Linked DNA regions of Homo sapiens: region 2 is linked to region 1. Evidence: fine-mapped expression QTL. A gene starts in region 1. The other region holds a variant in brackets. All regions are shown on one strand. Distances are from middle to middle. Region 1 holds the start of SLC5A12 (solute carrier family 5 member 12). Region 2 holds the start of BBOX1-AS1 (BBOX1 antisense RNA 1).

The links. PIP is the estimated chance that this variant, and not a neighbour inherited with it, causes the effect. A credible set is the group of variants that fine-mapping cannot tell apart.
Region 2: its variant is the best candidate, but not a certain one, in a credible set for the expression of SLC5A12 in spleen (GTEx, PIP 0.53).

What each region holds. Positions count from the first base shown.
Region 1 is chr11:26,719,069-26,724,453 of GRCh38, reverse strand. SLC5A12 (solute carrier family 5 member 12) reads left to right here and starts at 2,394. Exons shown (of 15, transcript NM_178498.4): 1 at 2,394-3,078. The coding sequence starts at 2,740.
Region 2 is chr11:27,215,962-27,221,346 of GRCh38, reverse strand. It overlaps BBOX1-AS1 (BBOX1 antisense RNA 1), which reads left to right and starts at 2,579. Exons shown (of 4, transcript NR_125768.1): 1 at 2,579-2,688; 2 at 3,867-4,030. LOC105376600 (a long non-coding RNA gene) reads right to left here and starts at 1,602. Exons shown (of 4, transcript XR_931141.3): 1 at 1,549-1,602. RefSeq lists an enhancer at 5,004-5,385. The variant A/G (reference allele first, on the strand shown) is at 2,732.

The DNA of each region.
Region 1 (5,385 bases):
TTTACCTTTTTCTCTTTTGGTAGCATTTGATATCATCAAACTCTTTCTTTCCCATTACAACTTGTTGCATGCAAATTGCTGAACTATTTTACCTTGCGGAGACTACTAATGTTAGCAATTACAAATTTAACTTGTTAAGCATGTGAGTAATTGAGTAGCAGGACCTTGTTAAGGCCATGTATGAGTAACAGGTGATGGTGTTTATATTCTGACAGGGTCTCAAGCCTTACACTAAATGAGTCAAATACAAATGGCAGTATTCTGTGCACATGAGAGAGGGTAGAGGCGCTACAGGGATTTCTTCAGGTCGAAGAAGCATATTTTCCCTCCTTCTCGCTATATTAACATTTCTGATATAGAAATGTGCCTTCTAATTAATGAGGTCATTGAATGTACTGGGGTTTTTTTTTTTTCACCTGAAAAGTTATGAATTGCTGCTGTGCTTTACAATCTGCATGAACTTTGCATGGAGTGAGTCTTTATGGAATTAAGAAGAGCGTTTGAGGACAACGAATGCTACCAAAGGGAGAAAAGGGTAAATATGTAGAAAATAACTGAAAATTAAATTACTGAATTGATGCTGTGCCTTATAATCAACAAAATGTTGAAAGCAAGGAATACTTTCCTAAGAGGCATAAAGGTTTCTTCATATCCCAGGTATTAACCAATCTGCTCCCTACCACTTCAAAATTCAAGACTAATTGGAGTCATGCAGATAATACTGTTACTACACAAAGTTTAATTAAAACCATCAGTACTCATTAACTCTTTTGTTATAGGTTTCTAGTATGTACCTTTAGAAAGTTATTGATGATAATGTTTTGAACCATTCTTAACCTGACTTATACAAGGGGATTACATGTTTTATAGATTGAATATTAACCATTAGGTAGTGTAAATATTAAACTATAAAGGAGTCAAGTTTCTGAAAGCTAAAAAAGTTCTGATTTTCTGCTGAGATCACAACAAAAACCTCATATATAATTGGAATACTTCATGATACAAATAATTAAAAGCCCAGGTTAAGGTAAATATATTAAAGACCAAGATTTGCAGTAACATTTATCATATCAAATCTCCAAATCTAGTGGAGGAATTTAAACAGAGGACACAGACAGCTCTTGGGAGAGTCTTCATATTTTTATTGGTAACTAAAAGCATACTTTAGCTATCTAATTAAACCTTTCTTTGGTCTAATTCAAATTCATGAAGCAAAGATTTATTCAGTTATCCAGATGTGAAAAGCAAAATTAGAGCGTTTTTTGTTTTATTGTTTGGCTGGAAATGTTTCTGTCTTTGGGCATTATGGATAATTTTAGTTTTCTCCTTTCTAAAAATTATTTTTTTTATTTTCTACAATGGCTATAATGTATTGGGTATATGGACTAGAGCTTTGCTTCTGTCTTCAAGGAAATGTCATTTGAACAGCTGACAGACTCCTGTAGCCGGTTACATAGAGATTCCCTAAAATAGGCAAGATGATGGCTGAGTACAAAATGAGTACTAGGGAGGCTACGTTCTACAGGAGTTGACGTGGAGAGGCAGAAAAGCTTCACAGAGTAGAGAAAACTCATACTAGATCTTGTAGAATACACAAGCTTTGTAGAGGTGGGGATGGAGAAGGCCACTGAAGAAGGAGGAGAAGCATGAACAAAATTAGAAATTGCACTAGAGGTACTTTGGAACAATTGACAGAGTCTAAAGAGAGCAGAAACAGGAATTTATAACTGGATTGTTACCTTCCTTCTCTAATTTGTCCTGGTCCTAATTCTAACTTAGCCTGTGGGTACAGTGATAGTAACCTGGTGAAAATAAGAGAAAGACAAGATAAAGTTGAAGGCTATAAATAATTTATTAATTAATGGCAAATTGATTTTTCTAGGTCCTAGAATAAAGAAAGAAAAGCTATGATGTTCCAGAGTGCTCTGCTGTAAGCACAGATAATAGCCAATGGGGTACATATTATTACCTTTCATTTTACAGATCAAGACAAAGAGAGTCAGGAAGTTTAAGACTTAAGTCTTTAAAGACCTTGTAAGGTCTTATTATCCCTGTGTTCCAGGTGAAGTTCAGAAATGTTAAATGATTTATGAAATGTTTCATGGCTTTCTCGTGGTTGAGCCAGGACTCGAGCAAAGGTCTCTGAATTCCTAGTCCTTTGCTTCTTTCTCTCCACATCCACTGCCTCAGACAATTGCAGGCACACAGCCTTCACTCTCCCTTCTTCAAGAGGAAGACACTGCTGAGGATTGTGTTTGCATTTTACAGATTCCATCTCACGAATTAAAAATGCTGAGGTGGTAAATTGTTATCAATTCTATGTTTCCCAGAAATGTTTAACCTTAAGTTAAAAAAAATCTAAGAGATAAAACAGCATGTTATCTGGCCAGTCCATTCCACCCCCAGTGGTTATTAATTTCAGAACACATCTGAATTCCTTCTCTGTGGCATATGCTTTAGGAGAGGAGCAGACAGCTCTTAGCTAGGGTCAGATTTCAAATTCTCATCTCTTGGTGCCAATACCACCACCAGATTCTTCTTTGAAGTCAACTTTTGAGATCTTCACTAAGTACACGTTGGTGTCTGAAGATTCACACGAGTGCCTCTGGTAATCATTTTCTTCAGGGAATCACAGTCTCTCCTCTCAGCAAAGCATCCACTGTACTGAACTTTGCTTTTGGAAACATCTTCTTCCTGAGACCTCGTTGAAAGAAACTCTCTGGTGTCATACTTTCCAATATGGAGGTGAAGAACTTTGCAGTTTGGGATTATGTTGTATTTGCAGCCCTCTTTTTCATTTCCTCTGGAATTGGGGTGTTCTTTGCCATTAAGGAGAGAAAAAAGGCAACTTCCCGAGAGTTCCTGGTTGGGGGAAGGCAAATGAGCTTTGGCCCTGTCGGCTTGTCTCTGACAGCCAGCTTCATGTCAGCTGTCACGGTCCTGGGGACCCCTTCTGAAGTCTACCGCTTTGGGGCATCCTTCCTAGTCTTCTTCATTGCTTACCTATTTGTCATCCTCTTAACATCAGAGCTCTTTCTCCCTGTGTTCTACAGATCTGGTATCACCAGCACTTATGAGGTAAGATGATTTCTCCATTCTTCTCTAATTTTTTTTTCTCATCCTCTTGATGATAGCACCTGGTAGTTGAAGAACACTCACTGATTTTCAGGATAATTACACATTATGAGAAAGACATTAAAATGTTTTTGTAAAAAGCCTAAGCTTTGGAGACAGACATATCTATTTTCCCATCTGTAGAAGGAAAATAATGATGACAATCCCACAGGGCTATTTTAATGATCAAATGAGAACCTCTATGTGAGCACTTAATGTATGGCCTCATTTGTAGGAGGTTTGCAATAAAGAGGGCTGATGTTATTTTTTATTATTGTGAACGTCATCATTCTGAAAAGCAAACAGAACATTTCTCATGAGTACGGCAATTTTCCAGCTAAGAAAACTGAGATACAGATAAATGACTTAGTTAAGATTTTTGAATAGTAAAGTGACCTGAGAACCTAATTTTTTCTGTATCTCTACTTAGTGGCCTTTCCGTCAGAGAGTAGAGGGCATTTTAATACAAATTATAATAAGACTAATTTTTAATGAGGAAATGGAAACATTTTTGAAAAGTACAAAACATTTTAACGAAAGGAATTGCTAAATAATACAAATATGGGAATTATTTAATGTGAGGGAAATGAGGCAGTGGTGTTTTGGCTTTACAATGATTCTCAATGAAGACATCATGTTCAAAATTGAATTTGCATGCTCTATATAGAAATGTGATCAAACATAAGTTTCTATTAATAAGGTATTTATTTTCATTATCCAATATCATTCCTAAAGTCACTGCAGGAGACTGAAAAGAGACCTATTTTTTTTTAAATATGTAAGCTATATGAGTATAAAACATTATTCTAGCCTTCAAAAGTCACTCAGGCAAATGAACACTTTTTAGGAAGTCTTAAAAAGTGTTATTGATTCCATAGTTTTATGTAATGTAATTTTTATGACTATTCACTCAGTAAATACTCATTAAGCATCTACTCTTAAGATACTTAAAAAGGCACTCTTCTTTTTTTCCATGTATTTATTTACTTATTTATTTATTTATTTATTTATTTATGAGATGGGGCTTTTGCTATGTTTCCCAGGCCGTTCTCAAACTCCTGGGCTCAAGTGATTCTCCTGAATCAACCTCCCAAGTAGCTGGGACTACAGAAGTTTGCCACCACACCCAGCTTGTTCTAGGCATTCTCGTAGCCCTAGGCATAAAGCATTGCACCAAGTTCCTGCTGTCATGGAGCTTACTTCATAGCAGAGAAGGGCAGTCAATAAACATATACTGTGTAAGAAAATCATAATACAAATATATATGGTATTTAACTATGTGCTAAGTACTTCTCTAAGTTCCTTATGTGTGTTAAGTCTTTTGGCCTTAAAACAATCTTTTTTAGACAGGTACTGTCACCTCCTTTTAACAGACTAGAAAACTGAGGCATATAGAATTAAGTAACTTGCTAAGTGACATAAAGCTAGCAAGTAACAGTTTTTCAAACCAGGCAGTCTAACTTTAGATATCATATGCTAAATAACTATGCTGTCCTGTCCTACAAAAACAAATGGAGAAAAAGTAAAGTAAATAGGATGAGATAGAGAGGAGGAATGCTGGTATGAGTAGAGAATGTCCATATTCATAGAGGGTGATCATATGAAACTTCAAGTAAAATAAGACGTCTAAATGGAGACTGGAAGAAAGCAAATAATTGCACCAGACAAGGGAAGTGCATCTCAGGCTGAAGTAGTCACAGATGCAAAGGCCCTAGAAAAGGAGTGTGACTGGCATGTTGAAGGACAGCAAAGAAATCAGTGTGCTTGGAGAGGAGAGAGCAAAGGGGACAATGGTAAAAGATAAGATCAAAGAGATGGGAGTGCCCAGTTATATACAGCAGGGGTCTCAGTGGAGCTAGTGCCACACAGAGGGAGCACTTGGGATATTTGTAGGATATTTGGTTGTCACAATGATTAGGAGTCACTACTGATGTTTAGGGAGTTGAGGGCAGAGACATCAGATGTCTTTCAGTGTGTAAAGGCACATATACAATGAGTAATTTCACTCTGCACTGCATGATATTTTAATGCCGTAATGCTCAAAAACTACTGCACATATTAGTATTACCTTAGTGCACAGTAACTTTACAATAAAAAGTTATACACACACTATAAATTAGCACATTTTCCAGAAATTAAATGAAATAAAAACACTGTCTTAAAATTATTGAACAATTTACTTACTTTGAACAATCTGTCTATTCCATATGTGCTGCTCATTACATGCTTAGCCATAACTGGTTTTAGTAAAATGGCCTAGTTACTGCAAAA
Region 2 (5,385 bases), 500 kb before region 1:
TGGGCTTCCCTTTGAGGGTAACCCAACCTTTCTCTCTGGCTACCCTTAACATTTTTTCCTTCATTTCAACTTTGGTGAATCTGACAATTATATGTCTTGGAGTTGCTCTTCTCGAGGAGTATCTTTGTGGCGTTCTCTGTATTTCCTGAATCTGAACGTTGGCCTGCCTTGCTAGATTGGGGAAGTTCTCCTGGATAATATCCTGCAGAGTGTTTTCCAACTTGGTTCCATTCTCCCCATCACTTTCAGTTACACCAATCAGATGTAGATTTGGTCTTTTCACATAGTCCCATATTTCTTGGAGGCTTTGCTTATTTCTTTTTATTCTTTTTTCTCTAAACTTCCCTTCTCGCTTCATTTCATTCATTTCATCTTCCATTGCTGATACCCTTACTTCCAGTTGATCGCATTGGCTCCTGAGGCTTCTGCATTCTTCACGTAGTTCTCGAGCCTTGGTTTTCAGCTCCATCAGCTCCTTTAAGCACTTCTCTGTATTGGTTATTCTAGTTATACATTCTTCTAAATTTTTTTCAAAGTTTTCAACTTCTTTGCCTTTGGTTTGAATGTCCTCCCGTAGCTCAGAGTAATTTGATCATCTGAAGCCATCTTCTCTCAGCTCGTCAAAGTCATTCTCCATCCAGCTTTGTTCCGTTGCTGGTGAGGAACTGCGTTCCTTTGGAGGAGGAGAGGCGCTCTGCTTTTTAGAGTTTCCAGTTTTTCTGTTCTGTTTTTTCGCCATCTTTGTGGTTTTATCTACTTTTGGTCTTTGATGATGGTGATGTACTGATGGGTTTTTGGTGTGGATGTCCTTTCTGTTTGTTAGTTTTCCTTCTAACAGAGAGGACTCTCAGCTGCAGGTCTGTTGGAGTACCCTGCCGTGCGAGGTGTCAGTGTGCACCTGCTGGGGGGTGCCTCCCAGTTAGGCTGCTTGGGGGTCAGGGGTCAGGGACCCACTTGAGGAGGCAGTCTGCCCGTTCTCAGATCTCCAGCTGCGTGCTGGGAGAACCACTGCTCTCTTTAAAGCTGTCAGACAGGGACATTTAAGTCTGCAGAGGTTACTGCTGTCTTTTTGTTTGGCTGTGCCCTGCCCCCAGAGGTGGAGCCTACAGAGGCAGGCAGGCCTCCTTGAGTTGTGGTGGGCTCCACCCAGTTCGAGCTTCCCCGCTGCTTTGTTTACCTAATCAAGCCTGGGCAATGGCGGGCGCCCCTCCCCCAGCCTCGCTGCCGCCTTGCAGTTTGATCTCAGACTGCTGTGCTAGCAATCAGCGAGACTCCGTGGGCGTAGGACCCTCCGAGCCAGGTGCGGGATATAATCTCGTGGTGCGACGCTTTTTAAGCCCTTCAGAAAAGCGCAGTGTTCGGGTGGGAGTGACCCGATTTTCCAGGTGCCGCCCGTCACCCCTTTCTTTGACTCAGAAAGGGAACTCCCTGACCCCTTGCGCTTCCCAAGTGAGGCAATGCCTCGCCCTGCTTCGGCTCGCGCACGGTGCGCGCACCCGCTGACCTGCACCCACTGTCTGGCACTCCTTAGTGAGATGAACCCGGTACCTCAGATGGAAATGCAGAAATCACCCGTCTTCTGCGTCGCTCACGCTGGGAGCTGTAGACCGGAGCTGTTCCTATTCGGCCATCTTGGCTCCTCCTGTAACAATTTCTTGAGGTAGGTAGTGCTAGGACTAGCTCCATTTTTGTAGATGGGAAAACTAAGGCTGAGAAAGCATAGGTTATTTGTTTAGGGTCTTGAAGAAATAAAATGGCTGAGCTGAAGTTTGAAATCAGATCCTTGTGGCCCCAAATTCCCTTGGGGCCCAGGAATAAAATGATACCACTATGATTGAAAGCCAACAAACCTATACCAATGATGTATTGATAAGGTGCTGTTTCGCTGAGAAAAAACTTAGTGACCAGTGCAATCAAAAACACACAGTAAAGGGACAAGACTGGTCCTCTTGTGGGTAAGAAATAGGATTCTTGACATGTCTACACTGTTTGTGAAAGTGAGTATATTTGTGATTTTGTTCCAGAAATTACTAGGGTTTTTTTTTTTTTAACTGATAGAACAGAGAAGGTTCTGAATAAATGCTAGCAACTGTTTTTGGGGAGCAAAGTACAGGTAGTGTGATGTGGTGACCTTGGTTGTAGTTATTACCAGTGGAGGGTGTCCAGGTTCTTGGCATCTTGGACAAAGAATTGGACAAAACACACAAAGCAAGGAAAGAATAAAGGAACCAAAGCAGAGATTTATTGAAAATGAAAGCACGCTCCACAGGGTGGGAGCGGGCCAAGCACAGGGGCTCAAGACCCCTGTTACAGAATTTTCTGGGGTTTAAATATGCACTAGAGGTTTCCATTGGTTACTTGGTTACACCCTATGTAGATGAAGAGGAAGAAGCAAAGTTACAAAGAAGTTACAAAGTCATTTACTCAGTGTATGCCCTGTGTAAATGGAGAGGGTATTTCCTGTCATAGCTGAAGTGTTTCCATTTGATTTAGTTCTAGGAAGTCAGCATGAATCGGCTTTATGTTCCCTGCCTCCAGACCCTATTCTCCTGCCTCACAGGGAGTGACCTCACAGAAAGGCATTTTTTTTTTTTAATTGGAAGTTTCTTTCAAACTCTGCCTGCTTTTAGATGGCTCCTCTTAGAACTATGCATCTCTCCTGATACTTGGATGCTTTTCCTCTGACTGGTGAGACCTCCATCTCTGATCCCATCTGCAGTCATTTGGGTGC[A/G]GTTCAACTCACAGGATTAGAAAAATCTGTGGCCGGACCAGTGAGATCTGGCCTGGAGTGCTGGTCAGTGACTTCTGTGACTGACCATCCCCTTGGGACGGACAGACCCTGGGTCTCTTCACCCTCCCCTCTCTTTTCCTGGAGAAGCCAGCTCTTTCAGGTTGGGCTGCTTCCTAGAATTTCTTGGTTTACTTAGTTCCAAGTGAGGTGGGAGGTGGAAAAGGGGGCAGCTTCCAAGTTCTCCTGGGGAGAGCAAACTCAGGGCCATATCATCATTTCACCACAGACAACCACTCACGGAATTTTTCCTGATGTCTGTGTGGTTCTCAAGTTTCCCAACCTGTTCACCCTGAACACTTGGAGTTGGCTTCTGAGCTCAGAGAAAATACTCACTGTTGCCAGGCCACCAGTTTAGCCTTGGGGAGTGATGATTAAATAAATAAGGGGACCCCTCCCCCAATCTTGTTAGTTTACTTCACAGATAGGACTTTCCACTAATGCTGCCCAGAAAGCCCACAGAAAGGACTGTGGGCAGTGGCTGCTGTGGCTGTGCATGGCAGCTGGGGACTCCTTATCCTGACCCATTTAAGTCACACTATGATTGATGATCAGAATGGAAGAAAAACAACTGCAGATGGATAGTCAGTGGGGCAACCAAAAACCAACACAGCCTATTCCTGGTGTCTGCCCTTGCCTGACGTTGAGGGGGCACTTGAAGTAGTACAGTGATTAAAAGCATGGGTTATGGAGTCAGAAAAATCTGGGTTCAAACCCCAAGAGCAGCACTTAATGATTGGGAGACTTTGAGTAGCTTTGTATCATTCTTCTGAGCCTTAGATCCTTGAGGGTGGTGGGGATAATAATACCTTCCTCTTAGTGTTGTTCTGAGGATTAAATGAGATAATACAGGGGCAAGTACTTACAGCAGAGCCTGGCAAATAAGCAGTGCTCCATCATTTGCAGCTCCATCACAGCTATTTGTTGGCTGTGATGATTTTGCGATTATGTGAAATACTCAGCACAGTATCTGGCACAGAGGAAATAATAAATGGTAGCTGTTTCATAGGATTATGGAATGTCAGGGTTGGAAGGAATCTTGTCGAAGCCAAATTACTTTTATCTTCTCCTTTTACAGATGAAGATCCTGAATACCAAAGAGGGCCGCTGACAGGTCTAGGAGTACACTTCTAGCACCTAGCAGAGAGAGGCTTCACTACATCATGCTTCCTGACATCTCTCCCTTTGAAGAGCAGTCAGACTCCTGCTTTGCTCTTCAGACTTAATTTGGGGGTTTAACAGGTGAGGTTGCTGGGGGAACTCTTTTACAACATCTCTCTGAAAGAATCCGGGCTGCCAGTTTCATTTGGTTTGGGTGTCAGTAGCATGATGGAAAGACAAAAAAACACAACTTGACATCTGCAGAAATGGGTTCAAATTTTACCTGCAACTCACCAATTCTGTGGCCTTGGTTCAGCAATTAAACTCCCTAAAATTCAGTTTTTTCTTTGTAAAATGGGGTTATGAACAGTACCTACTTCAAAATGTGTTTGTGAAGATTAAAAAAGTTAACATAAAGAGTTTAGAAGAGTGTCTGGCATATTGTGCTCAATAAGTGTTTATTTATTTATTGCTGAATAAACCAGTAATTTAATTAGTATTAATAATTAGTTATTACTAATTAAACTAGTATAATGTAGTAATAAATTATTACTAAAGATCAGGTTGCAAAGACTTAGTGCTTAGGAACTCATTTCCTGCCTCCAGCCAATTTTGTGCCTCAGTGACAGTGTTGGTGGCCTTGGTCACAAGACAAGGGGGAGGCAGAGCTGCCTGCAGGTAGAGGGTTAACACAGGAGCTACCAGAATCCACGGGACAGCAGGGGATTGGTTTGGAATCCTGGTGTGGATTTGGGGTACAGATCCGGAAGCCTGGACTTTCTCTGTGGCTGATGGCCTTGAGAGACACATGTTACATCATTCTTGTTATTTATTTTTTTGTCACTGGAGCAAAGCAGAGGCTTTTCTTGGTTCAATCAGGAGTCATGAGCAAGGACAAGTAGAGAAGCTGAGCAGCTGTCGGGAGAATTCAGGCTGGAGTGGGCTCAGTGCCCAGGCCTTGCAGCCTGAGCTAGGGAGGAACACGTTGAAATGTGACATCTGCTGCCCAAGCTCCCCCTGACGCCCACCCCCTTCCTTGTCCAGCTGCTCAGGAGAAGGGAGGAAGCTAGCATTTTCCCATTGCCATTGTGTACCTGACAAGTTCATTAATCTTAGCTTATCTTATCCTCATGACCTCTCAAGCTGGTTATCATTTCTTTTTTATGGAAAAGGAAAAGGAAGAGGAAGAGGAGATTCAGAAGTGCCCAAGGGCACACATGGGGGCAGAGCCAGCATGCAAGCCCAGAGTCTTGGACTCTAAAACCCATGTTCCTTTCACGGCACTTGATAGTTCTTGTGGACCCAGCCAAGATATCACTGGCAGCATCTGGTTTATCATGAATCTGTGCAGTGTATGGCCAGAGGAGACAGAAATAAACCTAGAGGCAGGTGGCTCCTGGCATTAATGGCCTGAAGAAAAGAGAAGCCCAGGCCCAAGACTCCTTCCTAGTTTGCATATCCTTCCCTCCCCCGCTACCTCCCCACTTCACCTTCCT